Homo sapiens: one gene and its partners. Each later gene encodes a partner of the first gene's protein in a complex. Each region holds a gene or a part of one and is shown in the gene's direction. Other genes may lie near its edges. The genes, in order: EIF2S3, EIF2B5 and EIF2S1.

What was found.
Region 2: the proteins of EIF2S3 (region 1) and EIF2B5 are in contact, whole or in part, in a cryo-EM structure (PDB 6K71), measured with the Homo sapiens proteins. Residues at the interface, in NP_001406.1 of Homo sapiens: Glu72, Leu73, Glu74, Arg75, Thr78, Pro166, Gln167, Pro168, Thr170, Ser171, Glu172, Ala175, Glu178, Ala209, Phe210, Gln212, Thr214, Lys303, Asp304, Arg352, Phe376, Leu378, Arg379, Arg380, Leu382, Gly383, Arg385, Glu387, Val403 (codon at 1,197), Met405 (codon at 1,203); in NP_003898.2 of Homo sapiens: Glu126 (codon at 6,619), Tyr128 (codon at 6,625), Asp137 (codon at 6,652), Ala140 (codon at 6,661), Lys141 (codon at 6,664), Gln255 (codon at 7,188), Gln258, Leu259, Asp262, Asn263, Phe264, Asp265, Asn279, Asn285, Asp549, Phe553, Glu556, Thr560, Arg563, Glu567, Asn573, Leu576, Glu577, Asn579, Ser580, Leu581, Lys582, Tyr583, Ala584, Tyr585.
Region 3: the proteins of EIF2S3 (region 1) and EIF2S1 are in contact, whole or in part, in a cryo-EM structure (PDB 6K71), measured with the Homo sapiens proteins. Residues at the interface, in NP_001406.1 of Homo sapiens: Asn265, Lys266, Pro267, Gly268, Cys269, Glu270, Val271, Asp272, Asp273, Leu274, Lys275, Pro313, Ile314, Phe315, Lys317, Lys342, Ile343, Asp344, Pro345, Thr346, Leu347; in NP_004085.1 of Homo sapiens: Tyr200, Gly201, Tyr202, Ile205, Val208, Lys209, Leu212, Gly215, Leu216, Ser219, Ile227, Asn228, Leu229, Ile230, Tyr235.

The regions. Positions count from the first base shown.
Region 1 is NC_000023.11:24,071,919-24,079,043, forward strand, and holds the end of EIF2S3 (eukaryotic translation initiation factor 2 subunit 3), read left to right. Parts: intron 1-1,172; coding exon 1,173-1,345; intron 1,346-4,803; coding exon 4,804-4,867; 3' UTR 4,868-6,892; downstream 6,893-7,125. UniProt on the Homo sapiens protein: Member of the eIF2 complex that functions in the early steps of protein synthesis by forming a ternary complex with GTP and initiator tRNA.
Region 2 is NC_000003.12:184,131,057-184,138,465, forward strand, and holds the start of EIF2B5 (translation initiation factor eIF2B subunit epsilon), read left to right. Parts: upstream 1-4,301; 5' UTR 4,302-4,329; coding exon 4,330-4,524; intron 4,525-5,555; coding exon 5,556-5,680; intron 5,681-6,563; coding exon 6,564-6,749; intron 6,750-6,841; coding exon 6,842-7,019; intron 7,020-7,109; coding exon 7,110-7,190; intron 7,191-7,409. UniProt on the Homo sapiens protein: Acts as a component of the translation initiation factor 2B (eIF2B) complex, which catalyzes the exchange of GDP for GTP on eukaryotic initiation factor 2 (eIF2) gamma subunit.
Region 3 is NC_000014.9:67,384,230-67,387,043, forward strand, and holds the end of EIF2S1 (eukaryotic translation initiation factor 2 subunit 1), read left to right. Parts: 3' UTR 1-2,287; downstream 2,288-2,814. UniProt on the Homo sapiens protein: Member of the eIF2 complex that functions in the early steps of protein synthesis by forming a ternary complex with GTP and initiator tRNA. This complex binds to a 40S ribosomal subunit, followed by mRNA binding to form a 43S pre-initiation complex (43S PIC).

The DNA.
Region 1 (7,125 bases):
AGGCTGGAGTGCAGTGGCGCGATCTCGGCTCACGGCAACCTCCACCTCCTGGGTTCAAGCAATTCTCTTGCCTCGGTTTCCCAAGTATATGGGACTACAGGCACGCACCAGCACGCCCAGCTAATTTTTGTATATTTTAGTAGAGATGGGGTTTCACTATATGTTAGCCAGGCTGGACTTGACCTCCTGACCTCAAGTGATCCGCCCGCCTTGGCCTCCCAAAGTGCTGAGATTACAGGCATGAGCCACTGCGTCCGGCCAAAATTGAGAACTATATGGCAGTTAGTTTAAGAAAGAAACTTAATAAACAGGGAAAAGTATTAGCCATTTATGACAAAGACATGATATTCCTAAAATCCATATTTTTGTTTTGTTGTTTATTTTGAGACAGAGTCTTGCTCTGTTGCCCAGGCTGGAGTGCAGTGGTGCGATCTCGACTCACAGCAGCCTCGATCTCCCAGCTCAAGCCATCCTCCCACCTTAACCTCCTGAGTTGCTGGGACTACAGGTGTGGGTCACCACGCCTGGCTAATTTTGTATTTTTTGTAGAGACGGAGTTTTGCCGCATTACCCAGGCTGATCTCCAACTCCTGGGCTTGAGCAATCTGCCCACCCCAGCCTCCGAAAATGCTGGGATTAACAGGTGTGATCCACTGCGCCCAGCTTCATGATTTTTAAAAAATGTCCCAGATTAGGTTGGCAGAGATGGGAAATTGCTGACACCTAGTGTTGGCAAAGATTGAGGAAAATAAGCTATCATGCTTTTTTTTCCCCCCACTCAGGTGATCTGCCTTCCTCGGCCTCCCAATGTGCTGGGATTACAGGCGTGTGCCACTGCGCCTGGCCCATATTAACTCTTATATAGCCATAGTCCTTCATGCTCCCCTCTTTGGGAAATTTTGTACCTCATTTGTACTAGGTAACTGCTTCAGAATTTTAAGAGGTACTCTGGTACGGTTACTACCCTATTTTTTAAAGGTAGATCTTGTGTAAATTCAGTGGGTGCCAAATAAACTATACTATATATAGTTCAAATTCCTTTACAATGAAATTTCTATAGAATTTTTTTTATGATTGACATATTTCCCAATAGTATTTGGTAAATTCTTACTTACATTTGGAAAGCATTTTCTTGATTTTGGGGTTTATTTTTCCCTAATTTATTTTTCTAGGTTCAAAAGCTGTCTAAGAATGAAGTGCTCATGGTGAACATAGGATCCCTGTCAACAGGAGGGAGAGTTAGTGCTGTCAAGGCCGATTTGGGTAAAATTGTTTTGACCAATCCAGTGTGCACAGAGGTAGGAGAAAAAATTGCCCTTAGCCGAAGAGTTGAAAAACACTGGCGGTAAGTTTGTTAGTCTTTGCCACTGTCTAATTAAAAAAAGACACAGTCTTGTACAGAAAAAAAAGCACACAATCTTCCTTGAGGACAACAGTTACTGTGGCTTTCAGTCTCAACTATTTATTTGGATGACTTTGAAAACTATACTTCGGCCGGGTGCGGTGGCTCACGCCTGTAATCCCAGCACTTTGGGAGGCCTAGGCGGGTGGATCATGAGGTCAGGAGATCAAGACCATCCTGGCTAACATGGTGAAACCCCGTCTCTACTAAAAAATACAAAAAATTAGCCGGGCGTGGTGGCGGGCGCCTGTAGTCCCAGCTACTCGGGAGGCTGAGGCAGGAGAATGGCGTGAACCTGGGAGTCGGAGCTTGCAGTGAGCCGAGATGGCGCCACTGCACTCCAGCCTGGGCGACAGAGCGAGACTCCGTCTCAGAAAAAACTACAACCTTGACTATAGTCCCATATTTTAGTCCAAATACTGTGATTGGCTTCTCTTCCTGTTAGACACAACCTATGCAAAACCAAATGAATTTGGGTTCGGTATTTCTATCGTCATTGGCTTTGGAAATCATTTCACACTTAATAGAAAAATTGTAAGAGTTTTACAGAAAACTCCTCTATAGCTTTTTCCTAGATTGACAAACACACATACAGATTTATTTACATATATAAGTTTTTTTCTGAACCATTTGAGTGTAGGCTATATATGTTATGCTTCTTGATCTCTTAATACTTCAGTGTATATTTCCCATCAAAAAAGGATATTCTTATGTAACCACTTAGAAATTTAACATTGGCAAAATACTGAAATCTACAGTGCATGTTTCAGTTTTATTACTTGTCCCAATAATGTACTTTATGTTCCTCCTGTTTAGAATCTTGAATTGCATTTAATTTCATGTCTCTTTGATCTTTAATCTGGAGCTTTTTCAGCCTTTGTCTTAATTGACATTAACAGTTCTGAAGAATACAAACTAGTTACTTTATAGAATATTCCTCAATTTGGGTTTTTCTTATCATTCGGAAGCCTAACATTAGATTCAGTTATATATTCTTAACTTAAATACACCGTGAAGTCTCCTTTTCAGGAATCACAGCTAGAGGCACATGATATCTGACTGCTCCTCTTTGTTAAGGTTAGTTTTGACTATGTAGTCAAGATGTTGTCCAGCTTCTCTGCTGTGTAGTTACTCTCTACCCTTGCAACTAATAAGCAATCTGTAGGGAGATCTTTCTAGCCAGTACAAATAGCCTGCTGATCATTGAATCCCACACCCCTGGATGTAGCATCCACTGATGATTCTTGCCTGAATCGAACTTGACTATAATGATTACAAAATCATAGCACCTCTACGGGTTGCAGTATCCTCCCTCAACTCTACCACCCCACATTTATCATTTGGCATTCTTTCTTTGCCATTATTTATTTCCCTATCTAGTTATAATATGGACTCATGGAGTCCTATTTTATTCAACATGTTATGATCCATCACTGTCTTCCTTTATTTTGATGTGCATTGTTCGACGTTTGGCCAGTGGAGGTCCTTCAGGCTGGCTCTTGTGTCCTTTTGACATGTACTCATCATTTTTTTTTCTTCTTCTTTTTTTTTTTTTTTTTTTTTGAGATGGAGTCTTGCTTTGTCGCCGGGGTAGAATGCAGTGGCATGATCTCAGCTCACTGCAACCTCTGCCTCCCAGGTTCAAGCAATTCTCCTGCCTCAGCCTCCCGAGTAGCTGGGACTACAGGCACACGCCACCACACCCGGCTAATTTTTGTATTTTCAGTAGAGACGGGGTTTCACCACGTTGGCCAGCCTGGTCTTTAACCCCCGACCTCAGGTGATCCGCCCTCCTTGGCCTCCCAAAGTGCTGGGATTACAGGCATGAGCCACCACGCCTGACCTCTTTCTTCTTTTTTTTGGAACATTTCCTTATTTTCTGGCACAAAATCTTCCAGACTCATCTTGTACCTTCTCTGTTCCAGTTTTAGAACTGGCCATTTCTCTTATAAATGAAAAGCTGAGTGTTCAGGTGTGCTCATGGCTCTTAGGGTGCTGTTGCTTCTAGGTCTTTTGAGAGCATAGAGCCAGGAAGCATACACACATTTTTGGCTCCTGACTTTTTGCTCTTTCCCAGGTTATTGAGTTTGCCCCTTGCTTTCCATTCCTCGTCACCTCATCACAGTCCATACCACCATCACTTTACACTTCACAGTTAGTGCGAAAGACTCCTAGTTTGCCTCTTAACTTGGTCAAAATTAGTCTTCTTAAAACATTTTCATCATGCTGTGTTTAATAATTTCTAGAGTCTTCTCACTACTTTTTGATATTTGGGACTTTTCTAGAAACCTGCTTCAACCCATTTAAGCTTTCCTTCTGCATTGTCTTATATAAACCCTCTAAATTAGACTGTTTTGTGCCCTAACTGTCCCCATAATTATTCACATCACCCCTACCCACTATCTACTTCCTTAATTATTTATTTTATATTTTTTAGAGGCAGGGTCTCTCTGTTGACCAGGCTGGAGTTTAGTGGCATGATCATAGCTCACTGCAGCCTCAGTGTCTAAGTAGCTAGGACTATTGGCTCACACCACCGTGATCAGCTAATTTTTTTGTTTTTTGTAGACACTTGGTCTCACTGTGTTGCCCAGCATGATCTCAAACTCCTGGCCTCAAGCCATCCTCCCACCTCAGCCTCTCAAAGTGTTGGGATTACAGACATGAGCCACCCCGCCCAGCCCTGTTTCCTTTATTAAGGCTTCCATGCTACTGTGCCCACGATGGTCTCATCACTTGTCCAGGAGATTTATCTGAATTATTGCCCTGTAATTTAGAAAGTTAAATTTTTGTTGTCTCTTAAGTAAATAATTATTTGTGGTGACTTATGCCCTTTTGATTTTACTGTCTTTTGTGATTATATTTTTTTGCTATTACAGACACACGACTTCCAGTGTATTTTGAAATAGATTTAAGCAATAAACTTTCAGTCCAGGCACGGTGGCTCATGCCTGTAAGCCCAGCACTTTGTGAGGCCGAGGTGGGCGGATCACTTGAGGCCAGGAGTTCGCAACCAGCCTGGCCGACATAGTGAAACCCCATCTCTACTAAAAATACCAAAAAATCAGCCGGGCATGGTGGCGCATGCCTGTAGTCCCAGCTACTCGGGAGGCTGAGGCATGAGAATTGTTTGAACCCAGGAGCCAGAGGTTGCAGTGAGCCGAGATCGTACCACCGCACTCCAGACTGGGTGACAGAGTGAGACTGTCTCAGAAAAAACACACAAAAGCAAGAATAAAAAAGAATCTAAGAATATAGTGTGGGCTTTCTTTATGGAGGAGCAGGCTTTGGGAACAAATTTGAATTCAGAAGATAAGCAGGTAAAATTTATCACAAGATTGTGTGGTAATGAGAGTGAAGTGGATGTAAGATTTATGATTTCTTTTATTTTCATTTTGCAGTTTAATTGGTTGGGGTCAGATAAGAAGAGGAGTGACAATCAAGCCAACAGTAGATGATGACTGAAGAATACCAGTTAAATAATACATTCGGATGGATTTGGAAGTTGGAATTCCTCTTAACAACCAAGGGGTTTATTTTCAAAGCAATATTGGGGAATTGATTTCACAGTTCGTTACCTTAGTAGGTAACGGTAAGGTTATTCTCTTTTTTTTTTTTTTTTTTTTTGGTTATGAAAACTTAGGGACTAAAATTAATATAAAAATTGGCATAATGTTGGATTGAATCTACATTTTGGCAGAAGTTAAACATTCCCACATAATGTCAAAATTATACATCATGCAGTTCTGTTTTTTTGTTTGTTTTATTTTGTTTTGTTTTTGAGTCTGGCTCTGTCACCCAGGCTGGAGTGCAGTGGCGTGATCTGCAACCTCTGCCCCCCGGGTTCAAGCGATTCTCCTGCCTCAGCCTCCCGAGTAGCTGAGATTACAGGTGCGCGCCACCACACTTGGCTAATTTTTGTATTATTAGTAGAGACGGGGTTTCAGCATGTTGGCTAGGCCGGTCTCTCCTGACCTCAGGGTGATCAGCCCACCTCGGCCTCACAAAGTGCTGGGATTACAGGCGTGAGCCACCTTGCCCAGCCCACATCATACAGTTTGAAATGAAACTTTGCCACAACCAGCCTTTGCTGTAGCACACACATATATCACTGAACCTGTTTGAAATAAAGTTTTTTTTCTTTTTCATGATTCGTCTTTGAGTACCTCCAGGCTGAAAGACTGTTGTACCAGTAAAAACTTAAAGGCACAAATTCTCCTTGAAGACCTTCTCCCTTTTATGTGGCCCCATATTTTATGTTGCTTTATCTTTGAAATTTTGCATGAAAAGGAAATGAATGGATTCGAATGAAATTGTCCTTTAGAGCATGATTACTTGTTCCCATGGACAAATATTTTTCTCCCCTTGCTCTTCCTGGCCTGAAACACGGGAAACCAGAGTCAAAAGTTATCTCCCTCTCCCTGTGATGCCTTGAGATTTTTTTCTGCGTTGTTTAATGCCTGAAATCCAAGTCTTCCTCCATGGGAAAATACTGTTATACCAAATAATTCTAGATGAGTAACAAAGATCTTTTTAGGCCTTCATTTTATGTTTTTTCTTAACTGTTATATTATGATTGTGACATAGATTATACTACTACTAATTTTTGGATGTTTCAAAAGGTCAAGAAGTAAAAGATGTTAGAAAGCAATGAGTGAGTCCTTTTGATTTTTAACTTATTCCCCATGTCCCTATACTTCGTGTGCTTTTCCTTTTTTTTTTTGAGACGGAGGCTCACTCCGTCACCTAGGCTAGAGTACAGTGGCACGATCTTGGCTCGCTGCAACCTCTGCCTCCCTGATTCAAGTGATTCTCGTGCTTCAGCCTCCCATGTAGCTGATATTACAGGCACTTGCCACCATACCCGGCTAATTTTTGTATTTTTAGTAGAGATGGGGTTTCACCATGTTGCCCAGGCTGGTCTTGAACTCCTAACCTCAGGTGATCCGCCCGCCTCTGCCTTCCAAAGTGCTGGGATTACAGGCGTGAGCCACTCTGCCCGGCTTATTTTTCTTTATGTTTTTGCTTCGTAAGAGGTTCTGTTGAGCAGTGATTTGCAACTCTTGCTGACGTTGCTGGGGAAGCTTTAAAAAAAAAAAAGATGCCCCACAGAGATTCTGATTTTAATTGTTCTGATTTAATTGGCTTGGAGTAGAATTCAGGCATTGATATCTTTAAAAACTCCCCAGTGTTGAGAAACAAATTTAGAGAGTTGAGAAGTAGGTATATTAAATTACAGAATCTTACTGAGTTTTGGTAGACTGATAATACAATTTGCTTTGCTTTTCTTAAATTTGCATTGAGATGGGATTTGAAGCATATTGTGCTCTTGTGAATGTTGAAGTTGCATTGTAGAAGTTTAGAAGCTCTGGCTATGGGTTGCCTAAATTGATGTTTTGAGGAAGCATATTAATGTTATAAACTTCGCTGACTTTGAAGGTTGTGTTGTAGCATGAGGAACACAAATAAAACAATTCTAAATCAAACTAATTTTATATCTAACATGTCCCCATGTGTTTTGTAGGTACCTTCTACCAGAAATTTTGGAATAAGACTTAAAATATAGACATTGTAATTAATCTCATGTAAGATTTGAAACCAGAATTCTATTATAATTAATTTCAGACATCCACATGAATTAGCAAATTTGTAAAGCACTGTACTGAGTGTAATGGGCATATACAGATAGGAAGTAAATGGACCTTATTTTAATAGAACTTGAA
Region 2 (7,409 bases), on another chromosome or scaffold:
GATCGTGTCACTGCACTCCAGCCTGGGTGACAGAGTAAGACTCCATCTCAAAACCAAAAAAAAAAAAAAAAAAAGAAAAGAAAAGAAAAATGAAAAAAAGTATGGCAATTTCTCAAAAAATTAAATGTAGAGTTACCATATGATACAGTAGTTCCATTTATTTCAGTGAAAACAGGGACTGGAACAGATATTTGTACGATCACGTTCGTAGTGGCATTATCCACAATAGCAAAAGGGGGAAACAACCGAAGAAGTGTCCATTGACAGATAAATGGATAAATAAAATGTGGTATCTACAGCCAATGGATTATCATTCAGCCTTTAAACGGAAGGAAATTCTGAAACATGCAACAATATGGATGAACCTTGAGGACATTATGCTAAGTGAAATAAGGCAGATACAAAAAAAATACTATGTGATTCCTCTTATATGAGGGACCTAGGGCAGTCAAATTCACAGAGACAGAAAGTGGCATGGTAGTTGCCAGGAGCTGGACTGAGTGGGAAATGAGGATTGTGTTTAATGGGTACAGAGTATCAGTTTTACAAAATGAAGAGTTCTGTGGGTGGATGTTGGTGATGGTAGCACAACAACGTGAACATAAGTAACACTACAGAGTTGTATACTTAAAAATGGCCAACTTCGATCAATTTTCCATGCCAAGGTTAAAAAATTGTTAAGATGATAACTTTTATGTTTTGTTGTATTTTTACCATAATCTTTTAAAAACAGCCTCAGCCTTGGGAGAGTCAGGAATTACTTTTGTTTGTCTACAGTTGATCACATACTCAGTTACTGACTAGCAACAACCAGTCATTCGTTCAACAAATATTTAGTGAGCATCTGCCATGTGCCAGTTACTCTTCTAGGTACCTGGGGTATAGTAGTGAATAAAATAAACAGAAGGCCCACAGAGATTATATTCTAAACTGATTTCATATTCAAGACTCATTTTGAAATCTAAATTCAGAGAAAGAACCAGAACTAGCCTGAGCAACACAGAAAGACCCCATTTCTACAAAAACTACAAAACTTAGGTGTGGTGGCAGGTGCCTGTTGTCCCAGCTACTCTGGAGGCTGAGGAAGGACTGCTTGAGCCCAAGAGTTTGAGGCTGCAGTGAGCTATGATTGTGCTACTGTACTCCAGCCTGGGCAACAGAGCACAACCCTGTTTCTAAACAAAAAGAAAGAAAGAAAAGAAAAGAAAAAGAGGCTGGGTGCGGTGGCTCACACCTGTAATCCCAGCACTTTGAGAGGCCAAGGCAGGTGGATCACCTGAAGTCAGGAGTTTGAGACCAGCCTGGCCAATATGGCAAAACCCCACCTTTATTAAAAATACAAAAATCAGCCAGGTGTAGTGGTGTGAGCCTGTAATCCCAGCTATTCAGGGGGGCCTAGGTAGGAAAATCACTTGAACCTCGGAGGCAGAGGTTGCAGTGAGCCAAGATCGTGCCACTACACTCCAGCCTGGGAGACAGAGTGAGACTCTGTCTCAAAAAGAAAAAAAAAAAGAAAAAGAACCAGAACTGGCAGTTGACCAAATATATGAAAAAATGTTCAACCTCACTGAAATAGAGAAATGCAAATTAAAACTACACTTATTTTCCTTTACAGATTGGCAGAAACTCCAAACTATTGACAAAATACTCTGTTGGTGAGGCTATGGGGAAACAGGCGCTCTCATACATTGCTGGTGTAAGTGCAAAATGACACATTGTCCAGGGAGAGCAATTAAGCAGTATCTCCATGAATTCCACCAGTGCCTCATCAGGCTTGCCAGTGAGTTCAACAATGTACCTTCTGCCATGGGAATTGCATCCAATTTGAACCAGTTACTCTAATTCAATAATAAATTCTAAGAAATAAACGCAAATTTATAAAGACTATATGTAGAAAGATGTTTATTGCAGCATTATTTGTAATCGTAGAAACTGCAAAAAAAATCTGCAATGTTTCTCAAGAGAGAAATGGTTCGATAAACAATGGTATACTCGTGCTATGGAATATTATGGAATCATTGAAAATGGCTATGTTTGTCTACTTTCCCACATATGTTAAATAAAAATCAAGTTGCAGACAAAATGCATAATCATCAAAATAGCTAATACATTACCTTCACAATGTGTCAATGCCTGTTCTAAGGGCTTTTCATATATTATTTCATTTAATTCTCACAATAACTTTATGGGATAAGTATTATTATTATCCCATTTCAAAGATGAAGAAGTCCAGGCATAAAGAGGCTGAGTAGCCCAAAGCTATCCAACTAGGGCCTGGAACCGAAGCCAGGCAGTCTGGCTCTGGCATACCAGCATATAACCATAATTATCTAAACATAATTCTGTGTTTGAATACATGTGGATATACATATATTATGTTTGAATATATATGTATGGGTGTGTGTGTGTGTGTATGTAGGCATACACTCTAGCTCTAGTTCTAGACATATAAATTTAGGGAAGAAATGAATACCCATCAAATTATTAAGAATGGTTATGACTCTACAAATTGGATAGGATGAAAGAAGTAGGGAAAGGAATTTTTACTTCTTTATGTAGTGTGTGTGAGAGATTATGTATATGTGGTTTCCAATATATTTCAAGTAAGTTTTTAAACAACAACAACAAAAAACAGTTTGAGAGAGTCTTCCTGAAACTCGTCTATTAAAATCATATCCATATAGCTACCAGTCTACAGAATTTTAAGACCTGGATTTACCATAAGCACAAATGCCTTTCGGCAGCGGATTCACCACTTCCCAACTTCCCAAGGTTGCGGGAATCATTTAAAATAAATTCTGCAATCGGACCTACTTTCCATACCCAAACACCCCCCCAAGAGTGTGTGTGTGTGTGTGTTTGTGTGTGTGTGTGTGTGTCCTATTTAATTCCTTCTCCCCTCCCCCATTTCTACCTCTGGATTTGTAGGGCAGTTGAACATTCCTTTTCTACAACGTGCATTCATTTAATGGAAAACTTTTACTTAGTTGGCTTCAGCCTTTCCTTTTCTAGGATAAATCAAATGGTTTTCGTTCCGCACCCTAACGAGGCAAGAAATGACAAACTCCTCGGTCCCCCTAGGCGGGCGCCGGAGCACGACGGGTCAAGTCGGAATCGCCACGTGGAAACAGCTCTCAGCATCGCGAACTCCAAATCCCGACGTGCAACGCGGGGCGGGATGGGAACAGTTTGCAGGAACTGCAGAAGCCTGTGGCGTGGAACCTGGACAGGTCCCGTGCAGAAAGGGCGCTATGCCTTACAGAAAAGTTCCTTGCCTCCCAAATGACGCCCAGCCTTCCTGCCCCGTTCCACCGCTTTCCCACGGCCCCGCCCCTCTACAGAGTTGGTTTATTCCCCGCAGCCACCGCTTCTTTCCCCAAAGAGAAAAAGGTGCTGCTGCGCCTTTTCAAGCCTTGGACCTTTACGCCCGCACTTTCCTCTGCCCAGAAAGCTTACTGCTTAACTCCAGTACAACTTACTGGTGCGCCTGGATCCACCCCCGTCTCCACTCTGCTTAAGACACAGGAGGCTGATAGGCTGGAAGAATGAATAGATGACATAAAATAGTCATTGTTATCCCCACATAACTTGGCAGCAAGATTGTGGAACTCTGCAGTCAGACAGATCGGGTTCCAATACCAGTTCTTCCACTTACTAGCTGGGTAAACTTCCTTCATCCTTCTGAGAGTTCAAGAAACGTTTGCTGAACGAATGAATAAGATGTTTTGCAGAGATAATGCTTGTATCGTGCCTGGCCCAAAATCAGCGCTCAATGGAATTACTGGTCTCCCTACTATATGCCTGCCACCTTCTCTATTTATGCAGGTTCTGAGTTCCTCGCAGCGGGGGAACATCTGGCTCGGTTCTATCTCCCCAAGGCGCTGGGTTCCCAGAAGTTTCTAGAATGAATACGGAGGGCTACATATTTCACATGCGCGGGGCGGGGAAACTGCTGGGCGATTACAGATTCCCGATGGAGCTGGCCCCTTCGTGGCGACCACAAGTCCTATCACGCCACAAGAATCTCGGCTTGTTCACCTACAAATGAAGGCCGACGATACTTGCAGACCGAGTCTGACATCTATGGGACCCCACTCCTACCCTGCGCCTCAGGGGCCGGGACAACCGTGACCCGTACCGACTCCTCGCGCCTCCGGGATCAACCTCAGACCCCTGTGGGCTCCCGGGGAAGACGCATGCGCACTGCTCCCTCCTCGTCTCCTTCCCTTCGTTAATTAGTCCATCGCATTTCAAGTGCTGGATCCTTTTTGTCCCCTACTGCGTGCGGTGGCAGCTTCCTTGCGGAAGTGGTGACCGTGAGAGAAGAAGATGGCGGCCCCTGTAGTGGCGCCGCCTGGTGTGGTGGTTAGTCGGGCTAACAAGCGCAGCGGCGCGGGGCCGGGAGGCAGCGGTGGCGGGGGAGCCAGAGGGGCGGAGGAGGAACCGCCGCCGCCCCTACAAGCAGTTCTGGTGGCCGATAGCTTCGATCGCCGCTTCTTCCCCATCTCCAAGGACCAGCCTCGGGTGAGCGCCGCGCACGCGAGCAGCCAGAGGGCAGGAAGGGTGGCAGGGCTGGAGCAAGTTCTCATTTCGGCTAACTACAACAGCATGCCCTTGAAGGACCTGCGTCTATGCTGTTATCCTAAAACCGGATGCAGAGGGACTGTCTAAACCCTGATGACTGCTGACCAAGTTAGTGGCCGGCAGATTTGGGCATTCGTAATGCTGTCCACCTCGGGTTTGAAAGGAATGAAGAGAGCTAAATGTAGAAACAGCGCTTGAGAGAAGCCTTCACGCGGGGATTCAGTGCCCCTAGAAGAGGCTGCGCCGCTTTTAACCTTGCCGATGACGGTTGCTTAGGTGAAAAGAAACGACCTTTTGCCTCTGAAAGGGCGGTAATATGCCTTAAAAAGAGCGGGCTAGATCTCAGGCAGTGTATTTTTTTTTTCCTTCCAGGTTCTAATGATAGCCGGTGCTATCTGTCGAAAGGACAAAATGGGTTTAGTGGTTGATTGCCATCAGCCCCCGAGTTGTCTAGACAATGGGGTATTGGACTCAGCTGGGTCGTTCAGCAGTCAGTTCAGAAAGAGGGAACTGCATTGGATTTAAGGAAAATCCTCTCTAATTCCCTCGAAAAAGCCTAATGGCTGTTCATTTTTGACAAGTGACGGGAGATGGCTAACCTCTGACACTTAGAAAGGGATCAAGGAAGGAAATCTTATGGGGAAGAAGGCCTTAGCAATGCTTAAATTTATGGAAATATGATTGATTTCCAGTATTATCCTTTGCCAGCAGTGAACTGCCATTCTGTCACAGCTCTGTGTCTGATACAAGGCACATAGATTCTGTACTTACCATCCCCAAATTGCAATGTCTCAGACTCAGGCTTAGAGCATGGCATGAACATCAAAGGCAGGAACCTGTTTATCTTTGAATTGGAAAGATACAGCAAAATTACACTGTTTGGAAATACGAATAGAGGAGTGAAAATTGTTGCAGTGGGGTACCCAAAGGGATTCGAGACCTCAAGTTTTTTTTCATCTTGTATCCTTCAGGTCCTCTTGCCCCTGGCCAATGTGGCATTAATTGACTACACTCTGGAATTCCTGACTGCCACAGGTGTACAGGAAACATTTGTCTTTTGTTGCTGGAAAGCTGCTCAAATCAAAGAACATTTACTGTAAGGCCCTGCAACTTTTCTTTCCATGTTTCGCCATCTTTTTCCAGTTTTTTCAGGATGAATGTAACTAAGGGGAAATGTGAGAGGGGAAAAATGTGTCTACTTAGATGTCATTGTAAGTTCTAAGGGTATTTTCTACACTTATCAGGAGGTGAGCAGCTGAAACTTTGTATCTGTCTGTCTTGGGTTTTCTGTGACAAAGATTAAAGAATAAACTTGGGTTTTTTCTGAATCTCATTATAAAGTTTGGTGCCAGTGGACTTTGCTTTTATTTAATGGCTTCAGTATGGAAGTTACAATGATAACATCTTTGTTTTCCCACTGAGTTTCTAAATCTTGTTTGTTCTCACCTTCAAGGATATAAATGAGCTCCTTGTCATCTTTGTATTCCCACTGCCTAGCTCAGTCCCAAGCATATAGTGAGCACTTACATGTTTGTTGAAATCTTGAAAACTAGGGAATCGCATTGCTTATGGAAGTCCAGGATGTAAAGACTAGGACATTAGCATGGTCTCCATCAGACAGTTCCTAAATGTTATATGGATTGCAGAAGGGGAAAGCTGACGTGAAGCGTGTTCCCAGGCTACTTTGTGTACCCTAGGCTTCAGCAGGATTTTGAGTTCAAATTGATGTTTAGGGACAAGGGGTCAAGGTATGGAGAGGAAATAACCATGTTTCCTAACCCATAAAACAAGACTGGTGACACAGGATGCTGAAAGCATTCATTATAGTTCATAATACTCTTTGAAGTTGAAGACGCTGGCAAGAACCCAAAAAAGCCATCGAGAAGGACTGTGAGTGCTGAAAGGGGGTGAAAAATGGGGAAGGCTCAAATGATCTTTATGCTTGATACACTCATTCCCCTCACCCTCCCTTCCTTTAGGAAGTCAAAGTGGTGCCGCCCTACATCTCTCAATGTGGTTCGAATAATTACATCAGAGCTCTATCGATCACTGGGAGATGTCCTCCGTGATGTTGATGCCAAGGCTTTGGTGCGCTCTGACTTTCTTCTGGTGTATGGGGATGTCATCTCAAACATCAATATCACCAGAGCCCTTGAGGAACACAGGTCAGGATGGGAAAATGACAGGAACAAGGGTTAAAGACCAGCAGAGCCCTGAGACTGCTTTTTTGCAGTTCTGTCCCTCCTGTCCTTTATAGGTTGAGACGGAAGCTAGAAAAAAATGTTTCTGTGATGACGATGATCTTCAAGGAGTCATCCCCCAGCCACCCAACTCGTTGCCACGAAGACAATGTGGTAGTGGCTGTGGATAGTACCACAAACAGGGTTCTCCATTTTCAGAAGACCCAGGGTCTCCGGCGTTTTGCATTTCCTCTGGTGTGTGGATATCTGGGGTCCTTTGAGATGGGGAAGTGACAGGCTTCAGTGGGAGAAACAAATTAAAGTCCTTGTAACTTCTCCCCACAGAGCCTGTTTCAGGGCAGTAGTGATGGAGTGGAGGTTCGATATGATTTACTGGATTGTCATATCAGCATCTGTTCTCCTCAGGTGAGCTCTTTAGGGCTGGGGCTGCACACCCAAAGAGTAGAACTCTGTGGGTCTGTTATTGTCCCCTTAGAAGGCCAGGGTATATTTCTTCTCCCTGTTTATTTTCATTATTTTTACTTTTATTTTTTGAGACAGAGTCTCGCTCTGTTGCCCAGGCTGGAGTGCAGTGGTGTGATCCCAGCTCACTGCAGACTCTGCCTCCTAGGTTCAAGTGATTCT
Region 3 (2,814 bases), on another chromosome or scaffold:
AAAAGCAGCTGCATTTTTTATTTAGTTGGAATATCACCCAATTTTTTATTTTTATTGCTATTAAAATATCCACTAGATGCCACCTAGAGCTCCAGTTCTTTATAACAAAACAGGGATCTGTTTGAACACTTACTGTTGTTTTTTTTTTTTTACATGTTTCCATCATTTCTGTCTTTAAGAACTAATTCGTACATAATAAGTTTCATAGGTAACACATTATTTGAAGTTACAGCTACAGTAGTCAGGTGTAGAAAATCTTGAGTTGCTTTGGTCTGCTTGTCTTCATAAATTTATTCTCTTATGATACTTGAGGTACCAGTTGTATTTAATTTTATTCATTATCCCTAGATAGCTATTAAGATACTTAGATTAGACCTAACCCACCATAGTCAATCCAAGACTAGACTACTCAATATTAAAGGGTCTGGAAAATAGAAGAGTGTGTTGGGCAGGTAGTTTGTACCATTTATGAAGGTTTGTTCCTTTGTTAAATTTAGCAGCCTGTACTAGCTTTTGAAATCCAGAAGTTTTAACTTCCAGTGGCTGGTTTCTGAGAGAGTGCCATGATTGCTAGCCAGCATTCCATATTGGGAATATGTAGAGGAGAACCTGGATGTACTTAAGAGTGGCATATAATTTTCACTTCTGTCTGTTGAGGCATCAAAAAAACAAGTTTAGAAAGCTGGCAACATGAAGAATGCATTCAAAATATAACAGGTGCTTCTTTGTTGTACGCAGAGGAATTTTTTCTTTTGATTTTGTTTACTGAAATTTGTTATACTTCAAAAGCCATAACTTGAAAAATACTGGTGGCGTCGATGGTGAGTGATTTTTATCCCACGTGGGCCTTTTGCTCAGTTCCATGGCAATTTTGTAAATTGACCCTAGCCAGAGAATAGATCAGTATTTCACTGATACCACGAGGAAAAGAACAAACAAAACTTAAAAGTATTCATACACCTTGCTAACCTAAAAGACAGCAGGGACAAGATACATATGAGGACAAGGTATACACCCAGTTCTGAATAACTTGAAGAACAGGCTTGGCAAAGAAGTAAGTTTATCCAAATCTTGAATTTCTGCCAGGCATGGTAGCTCATGCCTGTAACCCTGGCACTTAAGGGGCCAAGGCAGGAGGATCACTTGAGGCCAGTGAGCTGTGATCACTCCAGTGCACTCGAGCCTGGGTGACAGGGCAAGACCCTGTCTCAAAAAAAAAAAAAAAAACCAAAAATCTTGAATCTCCCATCAAAGCCTTTTCATTAAAAATACAATTTCATCTACTCCCTACTGTACCTTTCACTGATGTCAAGTGGCTATCAATTCATATAGCTGAAAATTAGTGATAGTTTGGGTCTCATTTATGCATAAATTAATTGAAAATCAGTAATGGCCAGGAAGAAATATGAATATTCAAACCACTTTTTTCTTTTTTTTTTTTTTTTTTTGGCAAATGGTGTTATATTGCCTGGGCAGGTCTCGAAATCCTGGGCTCAAGCTATCCTCCTGCCTCTGCCTCTGTAAGAGTGTGAGCCACCATGCCCCACCCAAACCATTTTTCATATCAGTTATAGCAAAACAAGACAAACCAGTTCTTAATAATGTTCAAAGTTGGACCCATAGAGACATGCTAAGCACTACATCATGCTAAGAAGAACAGTTATTACTCAGCTGCCATACTTCAGCCATTCTACTTTTACACCAAGAACAAAATGGCTAGAGATTTTTTTAAAAATACAAATGCCAGTACCTTGCCGAGACTTGTTCACTGATTTGCCCCAACCCCAAGGTAATGGTCATCTACTTTGCAACCTATGGAGATCCTGATAGCTCCCATACAAAGTGAGGTACACTGTTGCCAATTTGGAGGCAGGAAGCCATCAAACTAAACGTAGTTTAATTCAGATGAACACCTATCGATATTCAAAAGGCAAAACAAAAAAACTAATTCCAGGGACATTAGACCTTGGTGAAATGCCAAATGGAAAATGGTGCTTTAAAAGGTAGTCTCTTACCATATAAGGAATAAGTAAAACATTAGCTTGTGATTTCTCATTATTCAGGTCAATGTTTTAGACACGACTAACAAGGGACAGTTCAAACTATTAAAGAGAACAAATTTTTACTTAAGCACTTTGAGGTATCCACTCCCCTTAAATGTAAGTTATGTATTTTATCTGTTGATTAAGGGGAGGTCCAAGCATTTGTACTTGGCAGGAATGCTGGCAATAGCTTGTGCCAGATTACTGTATAAACTTGAAAGTAATAAAAATGTTCTTTAAAAGTATTGTATGATACAGACTTTTCACTACAGATTAACCTTCCAACTGGTGAAGTTTCTTGGTACCTATTTGTCTCAGCTTATATTCATTTTAAAACCAAAATTTAATGCCTTGATATAAATCTTCCCCATTTACATCTTTTTCTGTCCTTTAGAGCGCTCTTACTCTGCATTGCTAAATGCCCATTTTTCATAGAAAAGCTATGTAATGTATTTTTCGTATACGTGATTATGTTCTCCGACAGAGTCCATGACTTCTGTAATGTATAATATTTATGCAGGCTTGTTTTCTAAAGCAAAACAATATTCTCAATGTACAAAGTTTGGCCACCATCCCCACTTTAAGATGAACTATGTCTTAATGACAGAGATACTTGAAACGTTGCTCGAAAACTATAAACTTTGTATGGGATTCTAATAGCTAGAAACAAATTGTCAGCTTTTACTAATTCCAAAGAAGTTAAGAGAGAACCTCATAAGAAGAGAGTTTTATTCAACATTATGGCATGGCCAGTGTAATTGTTCCAACAAAG